Regions from separate parts of the Homo sapiens genome. Here regions 2 and 3 are each linked to region 1. The links come from fine-mapping of genetic effects on gene expression. A gene starts in region 1. Each other region holds a variant in brackets. All regions are shown on one strand. Distances are between the middles of the regions.

What was found. PIP is the estimated chance that this variant, and not a neighbour inherited with it, causes the effect. A credible set is the group of variants that fine-mapping cannot tell apart.
Region 2: its variant is the best candidate, but not a certain one, in a credible set for the expression of ZFP92 in putamen (GTEx, PIP 0.81).
Region 3: its variant is the best candidate, but not a certain one, in a credible set for the expression of ZFP92 in testis (GTEx, PIP 0.63).

The regions. Positions count from the first base shown.
Region 1 is chrX:153,409,798-153,412,549 of GRCh38, forward strand. It overlaps ZFP92 (ZFP92 zinc finger protein), which reads left to right and starts at 1,675. Exons shown (of 6, transcript NM_001136273.2): 1 at 1,675-1,906; 2 at 2,168-2,216. It also overlaps a transcript of PNMA6E not described here. RefSeq lists silencers at 1,471-1,720, 1,781-1,920, 1,983-2,193.
Region 2 is chrX:153,543,089-153,545,840 of GRCh38, forward strand. ATP2B3 (ATPase plasma membrane Ca2+ transporting 3) reads left to right here. Exons shown (of 22, transcript NM_001001344.3): 7 at 1-80. Among named protein-coding and RNA genes, the nearest start is that of ATP2B3, 27 kb to the left of the region's middle. RefSeq lists an enhancer at 784-1,636. The variant T/C (reference allele first, on the strand shown) is at 1,196.
Region 3 is chrX:153,357,181-153,359,932 of GRCh38, forward strand. It overlaps LOC105373378 (a long non-coding RNA gene), which reads left to right. Exons shown (of 3, transcript NR_135656.1): 2 at 11-76; 3 at 2,519-2,752. Among named protein-coding and RNA genes, the nearest start is that of MIR12129, 23 kb to the left of the region's middle. The variant A/G (reference allele first, on the strand shown) is at 1,427.

The DNA.
Region 1 (2,752 bases):
CCCAGCCTCCATGCAGGTTGGCCGCTCACACTCTCTGGAAATGAGCCAAGGACAACAGGAGCTGCCTTCCCAAGGTCGCCCCAGTCCCCACCAGGTTACTGGATGATGCGGGTGCAAAGGTCCCCCCGCCCCCTGCCTCCATGGCCCAGGAGGACTCTGGGCTCAGCCTATTCCCTCGTGTCGGAGTGGCCTGGGCTGCCGCAGCAAATGACCACAAACCGCTTGGCTTCAGCCAACAGGAATTGACTCTCCCAGTTCTGGAGGCCGGAGTCCAGAATCGGGCGCTTCCTCCGGTGGCTCTGGGGGTGGATCCACCCACCTCTTCCAGCTTCTGGGGGCCCTGGGCACTCCCCACCTTCGCCTCCACATGGCCTTCTCTGTGTCTCTCTCTCCTGTCTCTTCTAAGGAAACTGTCCTTGGATTTGGGGCCCCCTGGATCATCTGGGTTGCTCTCATCTCCACATCCTCAATTTAATGACATCTGCAGACACCCTTTATTTGCATATAAGGCCCTGATCACAGTGCCTGGGTGTTAAGATATGGATGTATCTTTCAAGGGGCACCAACCAGTCACCCCACAACATCTCAACAGCCCAGATCCCAGCCTGCCCAGCCAGAGCCCCGGTGAAGGGACAAGCTTGGGCACCAGGACACACAGCTGAGGGCCACCGGGAGACTCCCTGCCTCTGCGCCGGGAAAGGGGCTCCGAAGCTCTCCCTGCACTGGGCCCCCTGGGGGCCCTGCTCCCTGCAACCGGAGGTTCCCTGAGCAGCGTCCTCGCCCTTCCCCTATGCCCCAGATGGACGGCTTTTGTTCTGGGAGCGCAGGCTTGCCGAGGGCTCCTTGCTGCGGGCTAAGTGCTCCTGGCCAGGGCCCAGGGTCTCTGAAGAAAAGAAACCCCTGAACTCTGGTTCAAAGGCCAAGGAGGCTCCCGCCTCGTGCTCAGTTCCCAGTGGCCGGGGCTGGGATATGTGATGTGGCTGATTTTTCCCTGTTGCTTTTCTTTTACGGTCTTTTTCATACGCTTCACTATTTGTCAAAGGTCTCACAATTGTCATCAGAGCAATATCCCAACCAACCTTGGATTTCACTCCCTGCTCTACCACGTGGAGCATGACCCTTTGGAAAATGACAAACTCCAGGTGCGATCCCCTCCGGTAACCTGAGGGAAAGCCAGATGCACCCAGAGGGTCTTGGCTTCTTGCACTTCCCTGACCTCCTTTTTCCCCTCCTCGTGTCTCCACACCATGCTCCCTGAGTCACCTTTCACCTCTTCCCCGCTCTCTGATCCTTGCCATCCTGGGTCACTCCTTTACTGAGTGACCATGGCCGGGGTACTTGGTGCTAGCTGCCCTGCAGAGGTCCCGGGGACCCCAGCGAGATGAATAACTGAATGAATGGACGTAATAACGCCCAGGGGTCTAGCCCATGGGAGGTGTTCTGCCAACGCGGGTCCCTCCCGTCCCCTTCAGGAGCCGCGGTGCGCTGACCACTTCGACCCCAGCCTTCAGAGCAGCCCAGACAGAAAGCGGAAGTGCCTCGGGGCGCGTGGGGAGCCAGGCCAGACGCCCCTGTGGGGCGGGCGCGGGGCGGGCCGCCATCCCTCTGCGCCGCGCATGCTCCATGCCCCCCCCACAACGCGCCCCGTTCCCACGCTGCCGCCGCCCCGGCCCCGCCCGCTCCCGGCCCGCTCGTCGGCGCACCAGACTGAGACTCCCCTTCAGGACGCTCTTCGCGAGCGGTACCCAGAGGCGAAGTCGAGACAAGCCCAGGAGCCCCCACCCCCCGCCCGCGTTTCCTGGGGACGCGGCCTCGGAGGGCTTCTAGGAGGAGGCGGCGGCCTTGGCCTCGGGCCTGCCGGGAGCAGGAAGGGAGGCCGACTCCCTCGGCTGCCCGCCGAGCCCAGGTAAGAGGGCCGAGCTGGGCCGCAGGGGTGCGGGTAAGCGGGTAAGGGGCCCGTCTCGGCAGGGTGCAGGTGTCGAGGGGGACGAGGGAGCTGCGGCGGCGGCGACAAGCAGGGACTCCCTGGGAGGCGGGCTAGCACTGAGTGGCCGGACCAGCCCTCGGGGCCGCCCCGTACCAGGGGCGCCAGGGGAAGAGCCATCCAGGGCTGGGCGCTGGGAGCTGCGGCCCGTGTCTGTCAATTTCTCTCCTGATTGGTTTCCAGCCACCGGTCCCGAGGCTGGCTAAAGAGCATCCTGTCGCTGATCTGCCTGGTGAGTTTGGATTTTGCACCTCTGGGTGTGAGAGTGCTGGGCAGACTGGCATTGTGAGGTTGTGGCACCGCTGCCCAGGCACCGGCCCTGAGGGTCTCCAGATCGGGGCAGGATGCCCAAAATTGTGCTCCAGAGGGTATCAGGTGGGGGCTGGTGCCTCGCGGTGGTGCGGGATGTTGACCAGGTGACTGGCATGCCACGGAAAAGCATCAGCTTAGCCAAGCCAAGGAGGAAGCGAAGGGCCGATGGAAGTGGTGGGCAAGGGTGAGAGAAGGAGCCAGCTGAGCTGGGCAGAAAGCGGCACCCAGCGCTTCCCTACAGGGCTAGTTGTGACTGATTCACTCCCACAGATACCTCCTGAGCAAGCATTTGAGATCTGCCAGGGACACGGCGGTAGTAAGCCCTGCCCTGTTGTTCTCGTTCTAGTGGCTGAGCGCAGACAATAAGCAGAAAATGTTTTCCATTAGTAATTACAGAGTCTGTTAAAAGGCAGTAAGAGCCGGGGAAGGGAGGTCTGGTTGCCAGTTTAGGTGGTT
Region 2 (2,752 bases), 130 kb after region 1:
TGGCGTGAATTCCCAGACAGGCATCATCTTCACGCTGCTTGGAGCTGGCGGAGAGGAGGAAGAGAAGAAAGATAAGAAAGGTAGCGCAGCAGTGCCGCCAGTCCCTGGTGCTGGTGGCGGCTCCTTCCACGCTGCCCATTCTTTCTTTGCGGGCCGGTGCCACTGGGGGCTCAGGGAGAGCCAGCCCAAGTGGGTGGGAGGCCGGGCCCTCTCTTTTGATTCTCCGTGGAGACTCCTCTTCTGAGGATATCCCCCCTGAGAGCCGGCAGGCCAAGGGCCCCTCCAGTGCCGTGGACGGGGAGTTTCCCTGAGACCACCATCCCCAAAGGCTCCGGGATCCCATACCTACCTGGACAGGAATGGCGTTAGAGGGACAGGAGCTACGGGGAGCCTCATGCTTACCCTCAGGGCCCGTGCCCAGTAAGGTGCCGAGGATCCCAGGCCAGCGTGGGAGGCAGCCAGGGAGGTGGGGGTCAGAGGTCAGAGGAGGCTGGGACAGGTGAGGGCCGGGCAGCCCAACTGTGGGTGGTGGCCCTGCCCTGGGGCTTACAAAGCTAGGCAAGCCCGAGCCAGGAGGGCCCATTCCTCGTCCTGTGGCTGGAGCTGCCACCATCAGGCCCTGCAGCGGGCGGAGTCCTCAGACCTTCTAACCTGAGTACTATTCAGGGAGGCCCTGATGGACAAGATTGAATGGCTGCCACAGCCCCTTCTGGCTGGGCAGCCTTGCTCTGGCCTGGACTTGCCTTCTGGCCTCTCCTGCAGCCAAAACATGGTAGGGAGCCACACCCGCATGGGAAAGCTCTGCTTCCTGCCAGTGACCTCCAGCCAGGGCCCTGGGGCCAGTGCGCGGGGTGTGGGGGCGTGGGGGCGTGGGGCGGGCAGTCAGGGCCCGGGGAAAAGGTCAGCCCTGAGCCCAAAGCTCCCTGGAGGCAGCAAAGGAGTAGCTGGATGACCCTCTGTGGCCTAGAAGCTTCGACGAGCCCTGCCTCCTGGCAGCCTGGGCCTGTGTCTCCCTGCACCGGCTCTTCTTTGTGGCACCAAGTCCTGTAGGGCTCAGTGCAGTGTCTCACCCCAGTGAGTGCCCTGGGGGTGCGCAGGCAGATGGGCAGCCCTGGGCCTCGTCTGGGCTGGGCTGGAGTCCCTAGGCCTCTGTCCTGGGAAGCCCAGCTGCCCCTGCCTGGGCTGCCTCCTCATG[T/C]CTTGCACACAATGGCCCTCTCCCATCGTCCACGGGAACCCACGCTCCTCTGGAGTCTCCAGCCGCCCTTCTCAGGCTGCTCACCTTCTCTGTACCTTAAATGAGTGTGTCCTTCCTAACTGTTCCAGGCCTCTCCTTTCTTTTTTAAATTGACAAGACCATTCAGCCCCTCCCAGGCCCCACCTGGCCCTCCTCTCCAGCACCCTCAGGCTGTCCTACTTAGGAGTCAGAGCTAGAGGGCTTCCTGGAGGAAGAGAACCCTGAGGGGGCCCTGGAGGGAGAGCAGCAGCTGGCCAGCTGGGTAGAGGGTACCAGCAAGACCAGGGGGCTCCCTGCTCGCCCTCCCCGTCTCTCCCGCCCCATCCCCATTGTTTGGCGCAGCCTGCCAGGTACACGCTTAGGATACTTGCCTTCTACCTGCACCCAACCCCCTATTTCTTGTCTCTTGACCTTGACTCCTATGCACCTTTCTCCAAGTGTGCTTCTCCTCCTCACCTTCCCCCCACTCCTGTCTCTTCTGGCGGGGCCCAGCCCTCCTCTTCCAGCAATGCTCATCCCAGACTTCCCCCTGCCTCCCTCCTCCAGAGGCCTCCCAGGGCCTGTGTGCAGGCTGGGTCCAGAGTCCATGCTTCCTTCGGGCCCCCACGGCCCCAAGGCTCTGCCATCTCCCCTGCTGTGCTGTGCGGTCATCGCACTGCCATCTTGTGTCCGTGGGGGTCTCCCCTCCCTGCAAGAAGGGCCCTCTGTGCCCACAGGAACCCTGGGCGGAGAGGGCCTGATCAATGCCCCACCCCTGGCTGAGTAGGGTCGGGGGGGGGGCCCTCCCTGCTCCCTGGGGACCCCGGATCCCAACCCCAACTGCCTGGGAGTGCAGATGTGGCCCCCAGGAAGCTCCTCTAACTGCAGCTCTCAGAAGGGGTGACTGTGCCCACCACCTGAGCCCCTGGATAGGGCCACTTGGGGCCCAGCCTGGCCTTGCAGGGCTGCTGTGTGCCGGGGCTCAGGCTGGCACTCCTGTGCTGCAGCCCTGGGTTGACCAATGACCTGAAAGCGCCCCGCAGAGTCCTAGCGTCTCATTCCTTTGTCCCTTTAAAACACACACTGGGGCCAGGCACAGTGGCTCATGCCTGTAATCCCAACACTTTGAGAGGTCAAGGCAGGTGAATCACTTGAGGTCAGGAGTTGGAGACCAGCCTGGCCAACATGGCGAAACCCCGTCTCTATTAAAAGTACAAAAATTAACTGGGCGTGGTGGTGTACACCTGTAGTCCCAGCTACTTGGGAGGCTGAGGCAGGAGGATCGCTTAAACCTGGGAGGTGGAGGTTGCAGTGCTCAAACACACACACACTGAGCTAACTGCTGGACGTGACTGCAGGGAAAACCAATCCCTAGGCAAGGGCAGCTGGGTGCTGTCTGCCTGGCTTCCAGGGGTTAGGAGCCATCTAAGTGAACCCCTTGAGCTGGTTTGCAGGGAGCAGACGTCCCGACTTGGGGAGGTTCCAGCTTCCGGGAACCTCCCACTGCCAGCCATGTGTGACCCAGGGCCCTTCCAAGGC
Region 3 (2,752 bases), 53 kb before region 1:
CTGTGCACAGATGAGTGGCCAACTCTGGAGCCCAGGATGTTGCTTCCCAGTCTGGTGGTGAATCCTCCACAATCTGGTGAGTGTAAATATATATATTCCCTTCTCCCCTTCCCATTGCAATTTGCTTATTGTATCAATCTGCTTATGATATCATTTGCTTATTATTATATCACTTGCTTATTATATCTGCATTGCCATTTACATGGGATAAAGGTTGTTTACCCGTAAAGGTATTGTGTGTGTATCTTTTCTTCTCCCTTCACGCGTTTCCTGCACAGAACAATGTGGAAGTGACTTTGGAACTGGGTAAAAGGCAGAGGTTGGATTCCAAATTTTGAAGGGCTCAGAAGAGGACAGGAAAATGTGGGAAAGTTTGAAACTCCCTAGAGACTTGTTGAATTGCTTTGATCCAAATGCTGGTAATTATTATATGGACAATGAAATCCAGACTGAGGTGGTCTCAGATGGAGATGAGGAACTTGTTGGGAACTGGAGCAAAGGTGACTCTTGTTATGTTTTAGCAAAGAGACTGGCAGCATTTTGCCCCTGCCCTAGAGATTTGTGGAACTTTGAATTTGAGAGAGATGATTTAAGGTATCTGGTGGAAGAAATTTCTAAATAGCAAAGCATTCAAGATATGACTTGGGTGCTATTAAAGGCCTTCAGTTTTAAAAGGGAAACAGAGCATAAAAATTAGAAAAATTTGCAGCCTGTCAATGTGATAGAAAAGAAAATTCCCTTTTCTGAGGAGAAATTCAAGCTGGCTGCAGAAATTTGCATAAGTAACAAGAAGCCAAATGTTAATCACCAAGACAATGGGGAAAATGCTTCCAGGGTGTTTCAGAGACTTTTGCATCAGCCCTTCCCATCACAGGCCTGGAGGGCTAGAAGGAAAAAATGGTTTTGTGGGCCAGGCCCTGGGTCCCTCTGCTATGTGCAGCCTAGGGACTTAGTGCCCTGTGCCCCAACCACTCCAGCTGTGACTAAAAGGGGCCAAAGTACAGCTCAGGCTATTGCTTCAGAGGGTGGAAGCCCCAAGCCTTGAGAGCTTCCATGTGGTGTTGAGCCTGCGAGTGCACAGAAGTCAAGAATTGAGGTTTGGGGCCAGGCATGGTGGCTCACACCTATAATCCCAACACTTTGGGAGGCCAAGGTGTTGAGGTCAGGAGTTCGAGACCAGCCTGGCCAACATGGAGAAAACCTGTTTCTACTAAAAATACAAAAGTTAGCTGGACATGGTGGTGCAAGCCTGTAATCCCAGCTACCCGGGAGGCTGAGGTTGGAGAATCACTTGAACCCAGAAGGTGGAGGTTGCAATGAGCCAAGATCATGCCACTGCACTCCAGGCTGGGTGATAGAGCAAGACACCATCTTAAAAAAATAATTGAGGTTTGGGAACCTCCACCTAGATTTCAGAGGATGTATG[A/G]AAATGCCTGGATGCCCAGGCAGAAGTTTGCTGCAGGAGTGGGGCCCTCATGGATAACTCTGCTAGGGCAGTATGGAAGGGAAATGTGGGGTCAGAGCCCCCACACAGAGTCTCTACTGGGGCACCACCTAGTGGAGCTATGAGAAGAGGACCACCATCCTCCACACCCCAGAATGGTAGATCCACTGATGGCTTGCACTGTGCACCTGGAAAAGCTGCAGACACTCAACACCAGCCTGTGAAAGCAGCCAGGAGAGAAACTGTATCCTGCAAAGCCACAAGAGTGAAGCTGCCCAAGTCCGTGGGAGCCCACCTCTTGCATCAGCATGACCTAGACATGAGACATGGAGTCAAAGGAGATCATTTTGAAGTTTTAAGATTTGACTGCCCTGCTGGATTTCAGGCTTGCATGGGGCCTGTAGCCCCTTTGTTTTGGCCAATTTCTTTCATTTGGAACAGCTGTATTTACTCAATGCCTGTACCCCCATTGTATCTAGGAAGTAACTAATTTGCTTTTGATTTTACAGGCTCATAAGTGGAAGGGACTTGCCTTGTCTCAGATGAGACTTTGGACTGTGGACTTTTGAGTTAATGCTGAAATGAGTTAAGACTTTGGGGGACTGTTGGGAAGGCATGATTCATTTTGAAATGTGAGGACATGAGATTTGGGAGGGGAGAGGGCAGAATGCTATGGTTTGGCTGTTTCCCCACCCAAATCTCATCTTGAATTCCCACATGTTGTGGCAGGGACTCAGCGAGAGGTAATTATTCAATTACAATAGGGGCAGGTCTTTCCTGTGCTGTTCTCGTGATAGTGAATAAGTCTCACAAGATCTGATAGTTTTTAAAGAGGTGTTTCCCTGCACAAGCTCTCTTCTCTTGTCTGCTGCCATATGAGACATGGCTTTCACCTTGCACCATGATTGTGAGGCCTCCCTAGCCACGTGGAACTGTAAGTCCATTAAACCTCCTCCTTTTGTACATTGCCCAGTCTTTGGTATGTCTTTATCAGCAGGGTGAAAACAGAGTATTACAATCTCCAAACCTAACTGTTATTATAATGTAATGATCCATTTTCATCCTCACTTTCAGAGCTGGCCCTCTGGTGCCCAAAGCAGACTCCTGGGGTCCCTGTATTGGGCACTTACCCACTTCCTGCTGGCCGCAGCATGACACCTGATGCTCCTAGAGCAGCCAACTGAATTCCAGAAGAAAGGCTTCAGTGGTGTGTTTTCCAGAAGGAACCTGGCTCCTAGGATTAACAGTTGGGTCAAATCTCAAAAACTCTTTGCCCTTAACTACTGAAAACTTCCAGCATCTATAGCA